2 separate regions of the Homo sapiens genome follow, and region 2 is linked to region 1. A link means that fine-mapping ties the variant in region 1 to the expression of a gene that starts in the linked region. Tissue or cell type: thyroid. Region 1 holds a variant in brackets; the other region holds the start of a gene. All regions are shown on one strand. Distances are between the middles of the regions.

The links. PIP is the estimated chance that this variant, and not a neighbour inherited with it, causes the effect.
Region 2: CEP135 starts here. The variant in region 1 is fine-mapped to the expression of CEP135 in thyroid (GTEx, PIP 0.96).

Annotation. Positions count from the first base shown.
Region 1 is chr4:55,140,322-55,148,508 of GRCh38, reverse strand. No RefSeq gene overlaps it. Among named protein-coding and RNA genes, the nearest start is that of KDR, 19 kb to the right of the region's middle. The variant T/A (reference allele first, on the strand shown) is at 4,325.
Region 2 is chr4:55,944,333-55,952,519 of GRCh38, reverse strand. CEP135 (centrosomal protein 135) reads right to left here and starts at 3,575. Exons shown (of 26, transcript NM_025009.5): 1 at 3,461-3,575; 2 at 277-434. The coding sequence starts at 389. EXOC1-AS1 (EXOC1 antisense RNA 1) reads left to right here and starts at 4,508. Exons shown (of 5, transcript XR_941069.4): 1 at 4,508-4,680. LOC124900705 (a long non-coding RNA gene) reads left to right here. Exons shown (of 3, transcript XR_007058124.1): 3 at 49-129. RefSeq lists silencers at 3,170-3,629, 3,680-3,819 and enhancers at 3,034-3,998, 4,617-4,766.

The DNA of each region.
Region 1 (8,187 bases):
GCCATGGTAAGAGCATTTGGGTTTTGATTTTCCCCATGTAATTAAGCAAACTGTTCATAAGATAGTATTAGAATAGTCCCAATTTCAAATGTTGGATTTCCAAGTCAAACTATTGAAAGAACACAAAAGAAATAAATAAAGAGAATAAGGATGTAACTTCTCTAATGGAAAACTTCTCTCTTTTTTTCCAACCTTCTTGGCTGTAACACAAGGAAGGAGATACCCAGAATAGTGATTATCCTATCAGCTGGGCATTGTGCAGTGCCTTGTTCACACTTTTTGGCAACATTTTCAGATAAATGTTTGGATTGGGGGAAGGAAAACACAGTAAATGTCTACAAAAAGCCTGGGTCAATTTCAATGAACAAATAAATAAATAATTAGAGAATTATAAATTAAAATAAAGTAGCACATTTTGCTCATAAAATTTACAGATTTAAAAATATTAACAGTATTCCATAAGAGTAAAAGGGTGCAAAAACAGACTCATAAATTGTCAATGGGAGTATATAAATTCAGAATATCCTTTTAGAGGATAATAGGGCAGGATACATATAAGATATTTGAGTGCACATATATTATAACTCGGCAAGATAGGAATCAATCTTATAGAAATAGTTACATAGGAGAAAAAAGACATATTAAAGGCTATCCATTGAAAAATTTGAAACCGCTTAACTGTTCATCAATAGAGGCATGATTTAGTGTATTTTGGTGTATGAATTAATGTCTATACATGACATACAAAGCTCTATAAGGCATATTGCTAAGCAAAAGGAAACAATCATCTCAGAACAATATATGATATATAACCCACTTTTGGGAACAGTAACACAAAAATTGTAAGGAGTGTGTGTTTGTGAGTGCATGAGCATGTGTATATATCTATGTATGTAAGAGAAAACATGCACCAAACCACTAGCAGTGGTTACCTCTGGGTGTGTGTGTGGGGTCAGGGGGATTGGTGGTTGGAATGATGGTGAAAGGGAAACATACATACTATTTCCTAAATAATAATTATAATAATAATTAATATTTATGGAGCACTTACTATACATCCAGCACTATGCTGAAAGCTTTACATAAATAATCCTACTTAATCTTGACAACCACCTTATGAGGTAAATATTGCTTTCTGAATTTTACCATTTCCATTAAGTTAACTGAGTCACAAATAGGTGACATAATTTGAGGTGATTCAGTCAGAAAGTTGTAGTACTGTGATTTGAACCAAGGTAGTCTGGCTCTAGAGACCATGCTTAGAAACTTGATTCCATCTATCTATGTATTCACGTATCCATCCGTCTATTCATCCATCCATCCATCCATCCATCCATCCATCCATCCATCCATCCATCCATCCATCCATCGTCTATTCATCCACCTACCTACCTGTCATTTATGTATTGTCCATCATCTATCTATCACCCTTCCTTCCTCCCTCCCTTCCTTCCTCCCTCCCTTCCTTCCTTGCTTCCTTCCTTCCTTGTTTTTTTTTCTCTTCTTCCACACTAAAGTTCTCAGGCTACCATGGGGAAAATTAACCGTACAATATAATTTCTGAAAACACGCTAAGTTTCTCAGAGAGTAGCAAACATGACAAAAAAACTGGTTCTGATTATTTACCAGAATGAGGGAATTTGCCTCATTCCAGGACACTTGTGATAGGTGACAAACTGAATGTAGATCTCCAGATGGAGCAGAAAATGCAACTGAGTATGATTCCTGCCTCTGACTTGCTGCTGATCCGTGGAAGCAAAGCATTTCATAACAAGAAGACAACAATCTTCTCCTTTATTTTGCTAATGAAGAAACAGGGTCCAGAGTATTTAGTGGCCGAATTGATATAAAAATCAGGTTTTCTAACCCTCAGCTCAGTGCTTTCTCCACTATATCATAATTGGGAGTTCCATCATTTATAATGTACATTTACTTCCTATAGGATGTAACCAGAAAAATGGACACACAGAGTTGATCCATTTCTGTCACTAGAGCTCCAAAATTTGTATATATTTTTCTAAAAGGAAAGAAAAAAAGGACAGTTAGTGTTGAGCAGGTGTTTTATCATCAGCCTAAAAGGTTTGGCCATTATACCCTCCTTAACAGGAATCAGAAAAAAAAAAAAGAAAAAAAAAAAGGCGGTTCAATTTATTTCTTGAGGGTTGTGTTTTTGTAAATTAGCTAGTTGGTTTTTACGGGGACTCCCTCCAACTTGCCCATTTCAAAGGTCTCCAATCCTGTTAAATAAGAAAACCATCTTGGCTGAATGGTTAGGTCAGACAATGGCTAGACATGAAGCGAGTTGTCTGCAGAAGACATGGGCAGCCCAGTGAACCACAAGGATGGGTACAGGACATTGAGATGGGCAGGATGTCATTGTCAGCTAAGCTCATGTGCAGGTGACTGCCCCTGAACAGAAAAAAAGGTTAAGGGTCAGGAAACATGTGGACCCTGAGGAGGGCAGAGAAAGTACTGAGTCTAAGCCACTTTTCCTGATTTTATTCAAGCCAAGCGGAAGGCAAAGGGTTGCGTCAACTAACTTTCCCTGAACTGGTGCATCAGCAGGATGCTCTGAGCCTCTCCCACTTATCTCCAGATCCCAAACACAGAGTTCATGGTCATCTGGCTGCCTTGCTCAGAGCTCTTCAGGCAAAGGAGAAGAAAGGCCACTTCAACATCTAGCATTCTTCAATCTTGCTTGAGGCTGGCAGCTGTCACAGAATGCCATCAGCAAACAGATCATCTTAGCAATGTCTTTCCCACTTCTTAAACCATCAGCCTCTCACGATTTTTGAGTAGTTCCATGAGCCCTGTTCAGTTTTGAAATTCAAGCTACTGAGGCTTTGAACTACTTATTAGTACCAAAAGCCCAAAATATTTATCATCTATTGCTTGAAGAAAATTTTGTTTTCTGTGAGGCCATGACCAATACCATTAAATTTAAAAAAACCTGTGCCTAGTGGCCATTCCTCTGCTTAATGGTTGACTTTTCTGAACCTTTTGTTGAGTCTGCTTCACTTTGAGTCTCCAGGTCATTTGTTGTTTAAACAGAAGATCTGAAAATCAAAAATTTAAATATTACATATATATACATGTATATTAAACTATTTTTAAACATTATAAATGTAGTATACATTTTAAAATCTTGATCAGCAAAGAAGAAATAAAGTAAAAAAATGAAATGCCAAATGCCAGTCCCACAGATATTAGCATTATTAACAATTTCTCATATTGCCTCCCAGAATTGGTTTATGCATGAGGTACATGCACAGGGTACAGGTATTCTTTTTGATTGTTGTTTTAATGAAATGGAATCATACTAGACATTACTGCTTGGCAGCTTGCTTTTTTTCCATGAGCAATATATGCAACTCCTCCCTACTGGTAGGTATTAAGGTTGTTTCCATTTTTTAACATTTTCATCATCTAATTTTGCAATGAATATCCTCATTACAGGCAACTTGTAGACTTGCGCATGTATATATTCAAGTAATTACATTTGGATGCATGTTACTCGACTCTAGTAAAAATTTTGAGAACTTTCATTTGAGAAATGAAACCTGAAGGCAAAAATGGAGGGTAGGGTATATCCCTAGATTTATCCTTGCCAGTCTCTATCCTCAACTGCGGATAAATTGAATGTTGACTATAGGAAAATAAGAGAAGCAGAAAATAAACACATTTAGGAAACACGGGCACAGATTTTCTTGGGTGTCATGGGATTCGGGTCTTAGGAGAGTTATGACTTGGTCATTTTCATCCTGGTAATCTTTTAAAATAAAATGATTTCATTTGTCATGACAATGAAATCAGTTACTTTTTTCAAGTTTCATCACCACTGAGGTTCTCCTATCACCCCAGTTCTTGGTTATCACTCCTTCCAAGGAATGCCTATGATACTTAATTGCTTGCCCTGTAAATTGGATACACTATCTAGCTTTACATACTTATTTTCTAATGTACCAATTCTGAGTTCCTAATCTTATAAACCTCTTCAGGGTAAGTTTTATGCCTTTCTATATTCTTTGTACCATCTGTGCAGCAATATGCAATGCCTTAGAAGTGATAGCGAATGATTAATCTCTCTATGAATTGGTTTCCCTAGACTCCAAGGTCTAGAGCCCTACCTTATTTCCTAATGAACACGAACAGTTGAATAAGGAAAATATTTTTTTCCCATAGCCCCTTCTTACAGTAGACCAGTGCTTGGCATTCCAACCGAGTTTCCCAATCTGGGTGGACCAAAACATGACATTTTGATAGACAATAGCCATGAACCTTTGTTTTGTTTCCCTTCACAGCTCAGGTGGCCCTATCTGGCACA[T/A]AAGTAGAAACAGATGTTGAGAAGAGCAAGGAGGTATGTGGTGCCGATGTCTCAGTTCTGGGAAAAGGAAACACTTCACAGAAAATAGGTGCCACCTGTAGGGGGTTGCAGTCTGCCAAGTGAAACCAGTTTGGCTAAAGATAGCTAAAAATATTCCCCTAGGGTATAAGGTAATGTTTGTTTATGTATGAGACTGAATGAGGGTGTGTGTGTGTCTACGTGTGTGTGAATGCATGTGTACCTTCTGCATCATCCACTCCAATGAAGCCTTTTGACCTGTTCATGAATCCAATTGCTGAAAGAACAATTTTTATTTAATATTTGACCTGTTAAGAAAAATAGAACTGTTAAATAAATTTTTAACGGGTGCAGAAGAAAGAATTTTAAATTTCCTTATGTTTCAACTACCTCAATAAGATTTGCTAAGCTATCTAAAAGAGATTTGGTGCTTTGAAGAACTATACAAAACTCTACACAATGATTCAATATTACTTACACCTCCCTCCTAGCAGAATTTGGTTACATTTGGGGGATTAAGTGTACCTAAGACTACTAAATGAAATTGAATTGAAAAGCCATGTCTCTTTGGGCAAATTACTAAACTTCTTGTGCTTCAGTTTCCTCATCTGTAAAATGGATATAATAATTGTACATACTTCAAAGAGTTATTGAGAAGAGTGGATATTCTAAGAAAGTCACACTATGTAACACATGGAAAGTTATGACTACTATACTACTACTATTATGACTTCTACCACCACCACCCAATCCCTTCATCTTTTCCCCCACCTTTTCTTCTTTAATTCACAAAGATCTTCAATAATTTAATTTAAATGTGAAATTCTACGGAAATTTGTAATATTTTCTAGATGTGGGGATCCATAATTTTCTTTGATGTTGGAATTTAAGTCATGAGGCCTGATGTCACAGAAAGAGCACAGCATTAGTGGTCCTACAACTTGAATTTAGTTCCAGCCCTCTTACTTAGTAGCTCAGTGACCTGGAAAAGTTGCCTTTTCTGAGCCTCTCTTTCCTTAACTGTAAAATGGGAATAAGTGAATGAATGGGATGATTTCTCAGGTCCCTTCTGGGGGACACTTGGGAAGACCTGAATTATATTATGGAGCAAGATGTAGAAAAAAATCATAATGCTTTATACTATAAGCTGAACTCAATGGTTAATTTGTTTTAAAGAAGCAAAGTTAAAAATAATCCATTAGAAGTGAAAGAGATTAGAACTGAACATAAATATTTTCTAAAATTACTAAACAAGACTGAAGATTAGAACATCAGACTATAAAATCTTTAATGGCAGGGACAGTACATTAATATGTGTCCTTGTATCTATAGAGGTTAACAAGAGCCTTGGTACATAGTCGATGCCCAAGCAAAGTTTGCTAAAATGAATCTAACAGAATTCAGAGTCAATGTAGCTTGTGAATGAAATACTATTCTATTTGGATTGAACCCCGAGTTTAAATTGTGAGAAGGCTTAAATTTCTGAGATCAAAAGCATTATACTAGAATAGAAGTTCTTGGTGGCTGATGGACCAACATCATAACTATTACCTGGAAACTCATTAGAAAGGCAGAATTGTAGGCTCCACCTCAAGCCTACTGAATCAGAAACTCTAAAGATGGAGTCCAACAATGTGTTTTTTGTTTTTGTTCTGCTCTTTTAAATAGACTTTATATTTTAGAGCTGTTTTAGGTTCACAGCAAAATTGAGTGAAAAGTACAGAGTTGGCATACACTCCTTGTTCCACACATGCATGGCTTCCCCACCGTCAATATCCTGCACCAAAATGGTACATTTGTTACAGTTGATAAACCTACACTGACACATCATTATTATCCAAATTCCAAAATTTACATGAGGGTTCACTCTTGGTGTTGTATATGCTATAGGTTTTGATAAGTGTATAACATGAATCCATTATTGTAATATCATACAAAAGAGTTTTACTGTCCTAAGCAATGTGTGTTTTATTTTATTTTATTTTATTTTATTTTATTTTATTTTATTTTATTTTATGAGAAAGAGTCTTGCTCTGTCGCCCAGGCTGCAGTGCAGTGGCGCTATCTCAGCTCACTGCAACCTCTGTCTCCTGGATTCAAGCGATTCTTCTGCCTCAGCCTCCTAAGTAGCTGGGATTGCAGGTGCCCACCATCATGCCCAGGTAATTGTTGTATTTTTAATAGAGACAGGGTTTCACCATGTTGACCAGGCTGGTCTTGAACTTCTGACCTCAGGTGATCTGCCCGCCTCGGCCTCCCAATGTGCTGAGATTACAGATGTGAGCTACCGCACCCAGCCAGCAAACTGTGTTTTAAAAAGCTCTCTCATGCACATTAAAGTTTGACAACCATTGCATTACAGGATAGTTTTTCAAAGCTAAGTTGAAGAACTAGCCAAGAAATTAAGATGGTCTTAAATCCTACCTTTGAATTGAAGCTGTACTCAGTGTATCCTACCCTCCTCTTAATACACATTTGGACGCTAATGACCAGTACAGTCATTAAAAGAATTATGAACTCTGTCTAAATCTCTACTTCTCCCTTTGCTGAACTTTTGAGATGCTCTCCTCTACTCACATACTAATTGGAAACTAGGATAGAGCTGTGGAAAAGACACTGGTTTATTTTTAAAGAAAATATTTGGTCAGCCACGGTGGCTCACGCCTGTACTCCAAATACTTTGGGAGGCTGAGGAGGGTGAATCACTTGAGGTCAGGAGTTTGAGATGAGCCTGGACAACATGGTGAAACCCATCTTTACTAAAACATAAAAATTAGCTGAGATCATGCCCACTGCACTTCAGCCTGAGCGACCGGGCAATATTCTGTTTCAAAAAAAGAAAAAAAAGAAAGAAAACATTTTATTATCAAAAATGTCATGCATATACAGAGGCACAGAGAAAAGTGTCGTACATCCTTACGTAATCATTGCTAATCTTCAATAATTATAAACTCCTGGACTATCCTGTATCATGTATATTCACATCCATCCCTCTATCCATCCAAAATAATTTGAATCAAGTCCAAGATAATATCATTTTACCTGCAAATATCTATGGTTCAGCAAATAGAAGAGAATACTTCTTAACTAATTTTATGAGGCTATCATTGTCAAGATAACAAAACAGAAACAGAAAAAAAAAACTGAAGACTAATATCCCTCATTAATATAGGTTCAAAAATTTTTAACAAAACATTGGCAAATTGAATCTAGCCATATATTAAAAAATAAAAGAAAGCACATTATATCTAAGTGGTTATTTTGCCAGGAATGCAAGTTTGGCTCAACATTCAAAAATCAATCAATGCAATTTGACATAGCAGCAGACTAAAGAAGAACAACCATATTATTATTTCAATAGAGTCAGAAAAAACATTTGACTAAATTCAACATCTATTCATCATAAATTCCAATAAGTTAGAAATAGAAGGGAACTTCCTCAGCCTGATAAAAAGTATCTATGGAAAACCTAAAACATCATACTTAATGATGAAAAACTACATACTTTCTTCTCAAGCTTGGATATGGGACAAGGATGCACATTCTCATTACCTCTATTCAACATTATATTAGAGATCCTAGTCTATGCAACAAGCCAACAAATAAATAAAAGGCATACAGATTGGAAAGGAAGAACTAAAACTGTCTTTATTAATGGTAACATTATCATCTACATAGAAAATCTCCAAATCTATCAAAACCTACTAGAACTAATATGTGAGATTAGCAAGGGCACAGGTTACAAGGACAATATAAAAATTGATTATATTTCTATATAATAGCAAAAAACAATTGGAGATTAAAACTTAAAAATGGTACCATTTACAATGACATCAAAGAATATG
Region 2 (8,187 bases), 800 kb before region 1:
GTCTCTCAATTATATCAGAAACCCAAAAAACTGTAATTCCATTCACAGAGAAAACCCCCAGAAATGTTGACTTTGAACAGTACAGCGTGAGTGGTGGCCTTTAGAGTTCTGCCGTGTGGAAGGCCTGGATTGAGGACAGGGAAAAAACAGATAAGCTTCATGATTGAAAGCCTTTCCGGAAAGCTACCCTTTTCTTTACCAAAGCATGAAGTTCAATCAGAAATGAGGTAAGTGGTTAGGGATCATAAAGGTTGAAAACTGTATTTTTGTCTTTACCTGAAAAGTTTTTCTACCAAAGGTAAACACTCCACTGTCAGAGTCTGGCGGTATCCCAGCTGATCCAGCCTTTTCCTAATATTAATATACTTTCTCTCTACAGCTGTAGTCATCTCGTCTTCTAAAACAAGTTTTATTCACTTCCAAAAATTAAAGTCCTGAGAGAAAAGAATGAAACATCATTATCTTATTATAGCTATGATTGTTGTTTCACAATAAGAAGAAAAAATTATTTTAATATGAAGCAATTATTTTTTGTTTTTCTTCAGGTAGGTAGCCTTCTGGAAAATTCAGATTTAAAGCCAATGCTTATGATATTCCTGTTACTGCATTAAAATAAATACTTCCTCATACAACTAAATGTAAAAGTTAAAATCCTAAAGCTTCTAGGAGAAAACAAAGATTTTTCCTAAGCCTGAAGTAGGCAGAGACTTCTCAGAGAGGCCTCTTTTAAAAGCACTAAACATAAAAGATAAATTTGATAAATTGGACTTCATCAAAATTTAAAATGTCTGCTCATCAAAATACTCAATTAAAATAGAGAAGGCAAACCAAAGAGTGGGAGAAAATATTCACAATATCTGACAAAGGATTTGTATAGGGAATATAAAAGGAATTCTTACAACTCAATAATAAGACAAACATCCCAATAAGAACATTAATTTGGGCTAAAACTGTAATTTAGTTGCGCTAAAGATTCGAACAGACACCTCGCATAGGTGTCTGAATGGGAATGATGATATGAAATGGTGCTCAACAGTAGTCAACATGGAAATACAAATTAAAACAACAAGGTACATTTTCTCCCAAACTAGAATGACTAAAATTACAAGGACCGACAATAGCAAATGTCGACAAAGATCTGGAGCAACTGGAATCTTCACACATTGCTGACAGGAATGTAAAATCACTTTGGAAAAAGTCTGGCAGTTTTTTTATAAAGTTAAACATACTTCTGGACTATAACCCTGTGATTTTATTCCCAGGTATTTATAGAAATAAAAAATATTCACAAAAATACTCTACAAGAATGTTCACAGCTTTACTCATAGTAGCCCCAAACTGGAAACAACCTAAACCCCCATCAACAGCAGAAGGGGTAAAGTATGATATATTTATACAGTGCAATACTAAGGGATAAAAGGAACTACTGATACACATCAACAGCATGGATGAATCTCAAAAACATTATTTGAGCAAAAGAAACCAGACAAATACTGTATGACTCCATTTACATGAAGTTGATGAACAAGTAAAATTAAAACTATGGGGCCAGAAATTAAAACAAGAGTTGTCTGGGGAGGTGAGGCGGGCTGCAGATTGCCCGTTAAGAGTTAAGACACAACTTTTTAGGGTAATGAAAATATTACATTGATTGGGGTAGTGGTTACACAAGTGTATACATTTAGAGAATTTACTTTTCAAATAGTACACTTAAACTCTATGCATTTCATCATGTAAATTTCACTTCAATTAAAAAAAAAGACACACATAAGTACCTCTGTTCAAGTTTTTATCTTTGTCTTTTTAAATATTTATGAATATATTCCTATCAATCTGCCCTAAAATGGAGTTATCCAAAGAGCATTTCTTTTTTTTTTTTATTTTAATTGTTACCTTTTTTAGAGACAGGGTCTTGCTATGTGGCCCAGGCTGGTCTCCAACTCCTGAGCTCAAGGTATTCTCCCACCTCTACCTCCCAAAGTGCTAGGTTTACAGGTGTGAGCCAATATGCTCAGCCCAAAGATCATTTCTTTAGAAACTCTGCTCTTTTCTAACCTTTGCTAACTAACTGTAGTCATGGTACTCGTATTTCTAAGCCAAATAAAAATTTTGTTTTACATCTGTTGTTCTTCACAATATATAAAAAATGCATTACATGCATGAGCATACATGTAAAAGTCGATCCTCACAGCTACCCTGTGAGGGAGAAAGACCAATGATATTATCCCTACTTAAACATGAGGAAAGGCTGCCTCAAGAAAGTAACTCTTCCAAAACCACGGGGCCACAAAGTAGGTGGGCAGTCATCAGAGACCAGGTCTCCTGAGTCTCTCCTTGGTCACTCCTTTCTGTATATCTTTCTCTTTGCTCTTGTTAACTTTTTTTGAATGGCTTCCTCATAGATTTCCTAGGTTCTTTCCACAAGAGACACCTAAGTGATGCAGGGTTTTTAGGGAAATTCCTGCAGACATCAGAAATACACCTGACAAATCCAGGTGTATTACTAGCAGGGTGTAAACTTACAGGCGGTGCACCACTCAAAACATTTCCCCTCTTTGCTACCAACTCCAGTTACCCAGAGATAATACCTCCTCACATCCTGCTTTGGAGGGGAGAGAATGAGAATGAATATGAATCAATAAATCATGGCCAGGGCCTCAATACACAGGACGGATTAAAATCCTCCCAGATAGAAACATGTTAGGCCGTCCCCACCCATGAACTGTTGTCTTTCCCCATAACCCCCATCCAAATATGGTGGCTATACTCTAAGTTTCTAGCAAAGCAACATAAAAGGTTAGGTTTGGGGGTCCCCCATACATATATGTGTAGAAGTATCCATCTACTTAACTCTGGGGGTTGGCGTCTCAAAACCAGTACATTTAATGCTGTATGTATGTGTGCACAGGGCTTAAGAAGATAAACAAGAAACCCCAAACGACAACAAAGAAACCCGTTAGCTGTGGTTATCTCAGAGTCCTTTCTTATTGAACTCAAAGTAGTAAAGGCTGGAAAGCAGTGGAGAGGCTTCAAAGGAGCTGGGCAAAGGTTAATTAAAGGCTGTCGTCCTACGCTTTGCGACATTTTTGTTACAAAGAGCATGGATGACTGCTACACTGAGAAGGCATTTTAATGTTTAAATCTATCCATTGGTCAACAGCAAGCCTGTCTGCACGGCCCACACAGACGCTCCTTGACGAGTCGGCCCAAGCTCTCCTCCACCCAATCTCCGGTTTGCAACTTTACCGTCGGGTGTTGACGGGAAGGGGGTGTGGGAGCGGGGTGGGTGGGAAGAGTCCCCGCGCCCCTCCCCGCCCGGTCTGACCCGGCCTGGCCTCACTTCCTCCCGCGGCCGCGCGGCCTCCCGGCAGTGCCCGAGCCCGGCCCGCGGGTACCGCCCAGAAGGCGAAGGCGCCACCACCGCCGCAGCTGGCCCTCTGGCTCCCACATCCGGACTCACCGGCAGCTCCAGCCGCCGTTGCCTCCGCCTCCAGCCGCATTGCCCTCAGGCCTCGAGTCCCCCACTAGCTCCTTCCGTCCAGGCACGGGCTCCGGCGCTAGAGCAGTTTGAAAATGGCGCGGAGGGACGATCGGGGCCGACACGGAGGAGGCGCCGCGGTTGCCCCGGTAACGGGAGCGGCGGACGATTAGCGGCTCGCGGCGGGGACGCGCTTGGCGACGATGGCGGAGCCCCAGTGCCCGGAAATGCAACGGCCCGGACAGCGCGAGGCCACGGCGCCCCCTGGAGGTCGGCGCCCGCGGCCAGCAAATGCCAAACCTCAGCTGGTGCCTGAGCTGGCATCCTCTTCCTCCTGTCGGCGGGAGGTGTGGATCACCTACTGCGTGCGGGGAACAAACGCCGCCCCAGTACCGGTCCCTGCAGCGGAGTAGCCTTCACCTGCAAGGTGAACGCCTGCTCACCACGTAATCCCCAAACGCAGATATCACGTTGTCTCTGCAACTTTCCCTGACAACCACCCAATGCAATTAATTATCCCACAATAGTATCTCCCGCAGGCTCTCTGTAGAACCATAGAATTCATCCATCAAAATACAATCATTTGTTGATCCGTCTCTCTCTGCCGCCCCCAAATGTGAATTCCTTGAGTCAGAGACTATTCTACTCAGCAAAACATTTGTGAGTGGAATTAAATTGAAATAAACCGTTATAGTCCACTCACAGATGGAAAACACATAGTAAAATCCTAGAATTCCATTTCTCCCCTGAAAATTTCCCAGACAGTCAGAGGGAGTTTCATTCTTTCCTGTTTACTTTTCTCCCAAATAGGCCTTCTGAGGCAGCAGAATAGGGAAGGAAGTCAGAAGACTGACCAGCTCATACCTATGGAATGCCTATCATACATACACTTAAAATTATGGCAAGCTCACGCAGGCGCACTAAGAGAGAAAAAACAAGAAAACAGATATGACAATTATAGGAAATCCCCTCCCTAGAGTTAAAGAAGTGTAGGAAGTGGGTATAAAAGAACAAAGGCTATATTAATCCAGGGCTGACACCACTTGAAGATAAGCCCGTTCCTCTCTCTGGTATATTCTTTGCTTAATAAATCTTGTGGGGTGGTTATTTGTGTGTCTCATCCAATTCTTTGTTCATAACACCAAGAACCTGGAACTCCCAACTTCCAATCTGGTAACATATTTTGGTGAGCCAGCCAGGAGGTAAGCCCAGAAGAACTGGGACTTTTTATTTTCTTTCTTTTTTGCTTCAGCTCTTTCACTTTGGTTTAAAGCTGCCTTCTGCTGGCACGGATTGGGCAGTTAAGAACGAAAAAGGCACTGGCCGCTTGAAGACTCCCATTGTTGCGGGAAAGCAGAGGACCAGAAAGACCAATGGGTGGAGCAGGAGGATTTTATTAAGGTGTGCACTGGCTCCGTGGATTTGCATCCAAAAAGCTGAGCCCTGAACAAAGACAGAGCTTGGCTTATATAGGCTAAATTAAAAAAGCAGAACCAAGGCAGTAAATCACACAGTGACAGGTTTTGTAATCTATAGCATAACTGCTGAAATTTGCATAACTTTTGGCTTTGCTTAGCTGGTGGCCTTGCAGCTGCGTCAAAAGAAAAACAGGAACCTACAAATCTTTCTAAACATAGGCAAAAATAATCATAATTAATGGTCTAAGGAAAGAGAAACAGTAAAGGAATTTGTTTTTCTTAACCATTGCTCAGGGGTGTTTGGAGCTCATTCCTGGCTTCTTAGACTAGGTCACCATGACCTTCCTATAGCCTTGCTTGTTACTATCCTTAGAGTGAGTAAATGCAGTACAAAACTTTCTTTAAATTCCTGCCTCAACGTGACAGGATAACCTGATTGGGGAATGGAACAGATGGGTCCCACGGGGTACAAGATCAATCCCTGCAACAGTGAGGTGCATGTTTGTGTGGCTATAATTATTACATTATTTGCTGCTTGTTTTTTTGTTTTTGTTTTTGTTTTTGTTTTTGTTTTTGTTTTGAGATGGAGTCTTGCTCTGTCACCCAGGCTGGAGTGCAGTGGCATGATCTCGGCTCACTGCAACCTTCACCTCCCGGGATCAAGCAATTCTCCTGCCTCAGCCTCCTGAGTAGCTGGGATTACAGGCACCCACCACCATGCCCGGCTAATTTTTGTATTTTTAGTAGAGACAGAGTTTCACCATGTTGGCCAGGGTGGTCTCGAACTCCTGACCTCAGGTGATCCGCCCACCTCGGCCTCCCGAAGTCCTGGTATTACAGGCATGAGCCACCATGCCCAGCCAGCCACCGTGCCCAGCCTTGCTGCTTGTTTTATTTTTTTTTTCTTTTCTTCATTTGTGTTGGGATATCATGTTTTGACCAATTAGAGATCTCCCCCCAACCCAAAGGGCCAGGACAACAGGTAACTGACTGTGGGGAGCCCAAGGATTAGCATCAGCCTGAAGATTAGGGCCAACCACCTGGATAATGAGAGTACCCTGCTTCTTCTGTGAGGGATCAGATCTAGATTGTTTTAGTTTAGTACATCTGGTGCTAAAAGAAAACTCCTGGTGGAGACTCTCGGATCATTGCATAAATTGCACAGTGGATCCATGGGGAAATTACTGTGCCTGGTTTATCTCATATAGTCAGAGGGCACTCTACTATCTTATTGAGAGGCCAGTCTCTAATAACAAATTTAAACTAGGCAGTCTGCAATTCCTTGCCCTTCAAACTAGAGTTACTACAATAATTAAGGAAACCATTTGGGAAGAAACTCTTTTGGCCAGCTACAGGGATACTAGAAGCCAAAGGTTACACCCAGGAACTAAAGGGAAACTTATCATAGGTCACCAATTATGGCAGGATCCTTCTTCAAATGGCACTGGTGCCCACTATGGCTAGAGACGTCTGGCACTCAGAGGACAGGTCCATTTGGGGGATGCCCAAATGGACCAAAATTACAGTCCAGATCCTTCAATAGGGGACACCCTTAAGGGAGACTCTAGATGTAAACTCATGAACCTATGAGACTCCTTTCATGCGCGTCCATGTGAAGAGACCACCAAACAGGTTTTGTGTGAGCAATAAGGCTGTTTATTTCACCTGGGTGCAGGCAGGCTGAGTCTGAAAAGAGAGTCAGCGAAAGGAGATAGGGGTGGGGCAGTTTTATAGGATTTGGGTAGGTAAAGGAAAATTACAGTCAAAGGGGTTATTCTGTGGTGGGCAGGAGTGGGGGTCGCAAGGTGCTCAGTGGGGGAGCTTTTTGAGCCAGGATGAGCCAGGAAAAGGACTTTCACAAGGTAATGTCATCACTTAAGACAAGGACTGGCCATTTTCACTTCTTTTGTGGTGGAATGTCATCAGTTAAGGCGGGGCAGGGTATTTTCACTTCTTTTGTGATTCTTCAGTTACTTTGGGCCATCTGGGCATATATGTGCAAGTCACAGGGGATTCAATGGCTTGGCTTGGGCTCAGAGGCCTGACAACTCCCTTCTTCTTTTCCACAGATTAGTGTTGGGAAACATTCCTTCAGTCCTATCTGACTCCCCTCTTGGCTGCATCTTCAATCATTGGAATCAATTTGACCCTGAAAACCTGTGAAAGAAATGCCTAATATTTTATTGTAACACCTTTTGGCCTCAATTTCAGCTAGGGAGTCAAGAGCAATGGCCAGTCAATGGAAGTCTCAATTATGACACCATCCTCCAATTAGAACTATTTTGTAAGAGACAAGGCAAATGGTCAGAAATACCATATGTGCAAGCCTTCATGGCCCTATACCAAAAGCCTACCATTTTCAAAGCTCCCAGCACTTCTCCACAGAAAGAAACTCCTAAAACTGAGCCGAATACTGTAGATAACCCCCTCTTGCAAGGGGTACATATGTGTCAGGGTGAACAATAGCCACCTTCCTATAATCCAGGTCCAAGTGCACTTGAAGCTTCAAAAGAAGGACAAGAGTCACGGGTCCTAGCGATCCCTCCCCATACTAGCTTAGGAACACCATATTCAATGACACCACCTGTCCTGCTACCTCTCAGAGAGGTGGCAGGAACTGAGGGTCCCATCAGGGTACAGGTCTCCTTCTTAATAACTGATATCCAACAATGTAAGGAAAAACTGGGCAGTTACTCAGAAATTTGCTGTTGGGTTCCAGACTTTGACTTTGGCTTTCAACCTTTCTTGGAGAGACATGCAATTCATTTTGGCCACCTGTTGCACACCTCTGGAAAAGGAATGAATATTTGAGGCTGCTCGCCAGGACACTGATGAACATTTTGCATGTAGCCTGCAGGGCAACAGATCGGGAGCAGATACAGTCCCTACTACTGAACCCATTTGGAAATATAATACCCCCATGAGAATGAATAATCAAACTAAATTTCTTGAGGCACCCCTGAGGGGAATGAAAAAAGGTGTAACAAAGGGAGTAAACTATGATAAGTTTAAGGAGATTACTCAGGGGAAAGAAGAGAATCCAACCATGTTTTACAGTAGACTAGAAGAAGCCTTTAAAATATATACAAACTTAGATCCTGCTTCTCCTGAAGGCAAGATATTAATGGCACAACATTTCATTAGTCACTCTACCCCAGACATTAGACATAAGCTCCAGAAGCTGCAAAGGGGGCCATAGACAAAACCAGTTCCTTGACACCATCTTTATGGTGTACAACAATCATGAACTGGAGGAAGGAAAAGGGGAACAGAGTAAAAAAAAACCCAGCA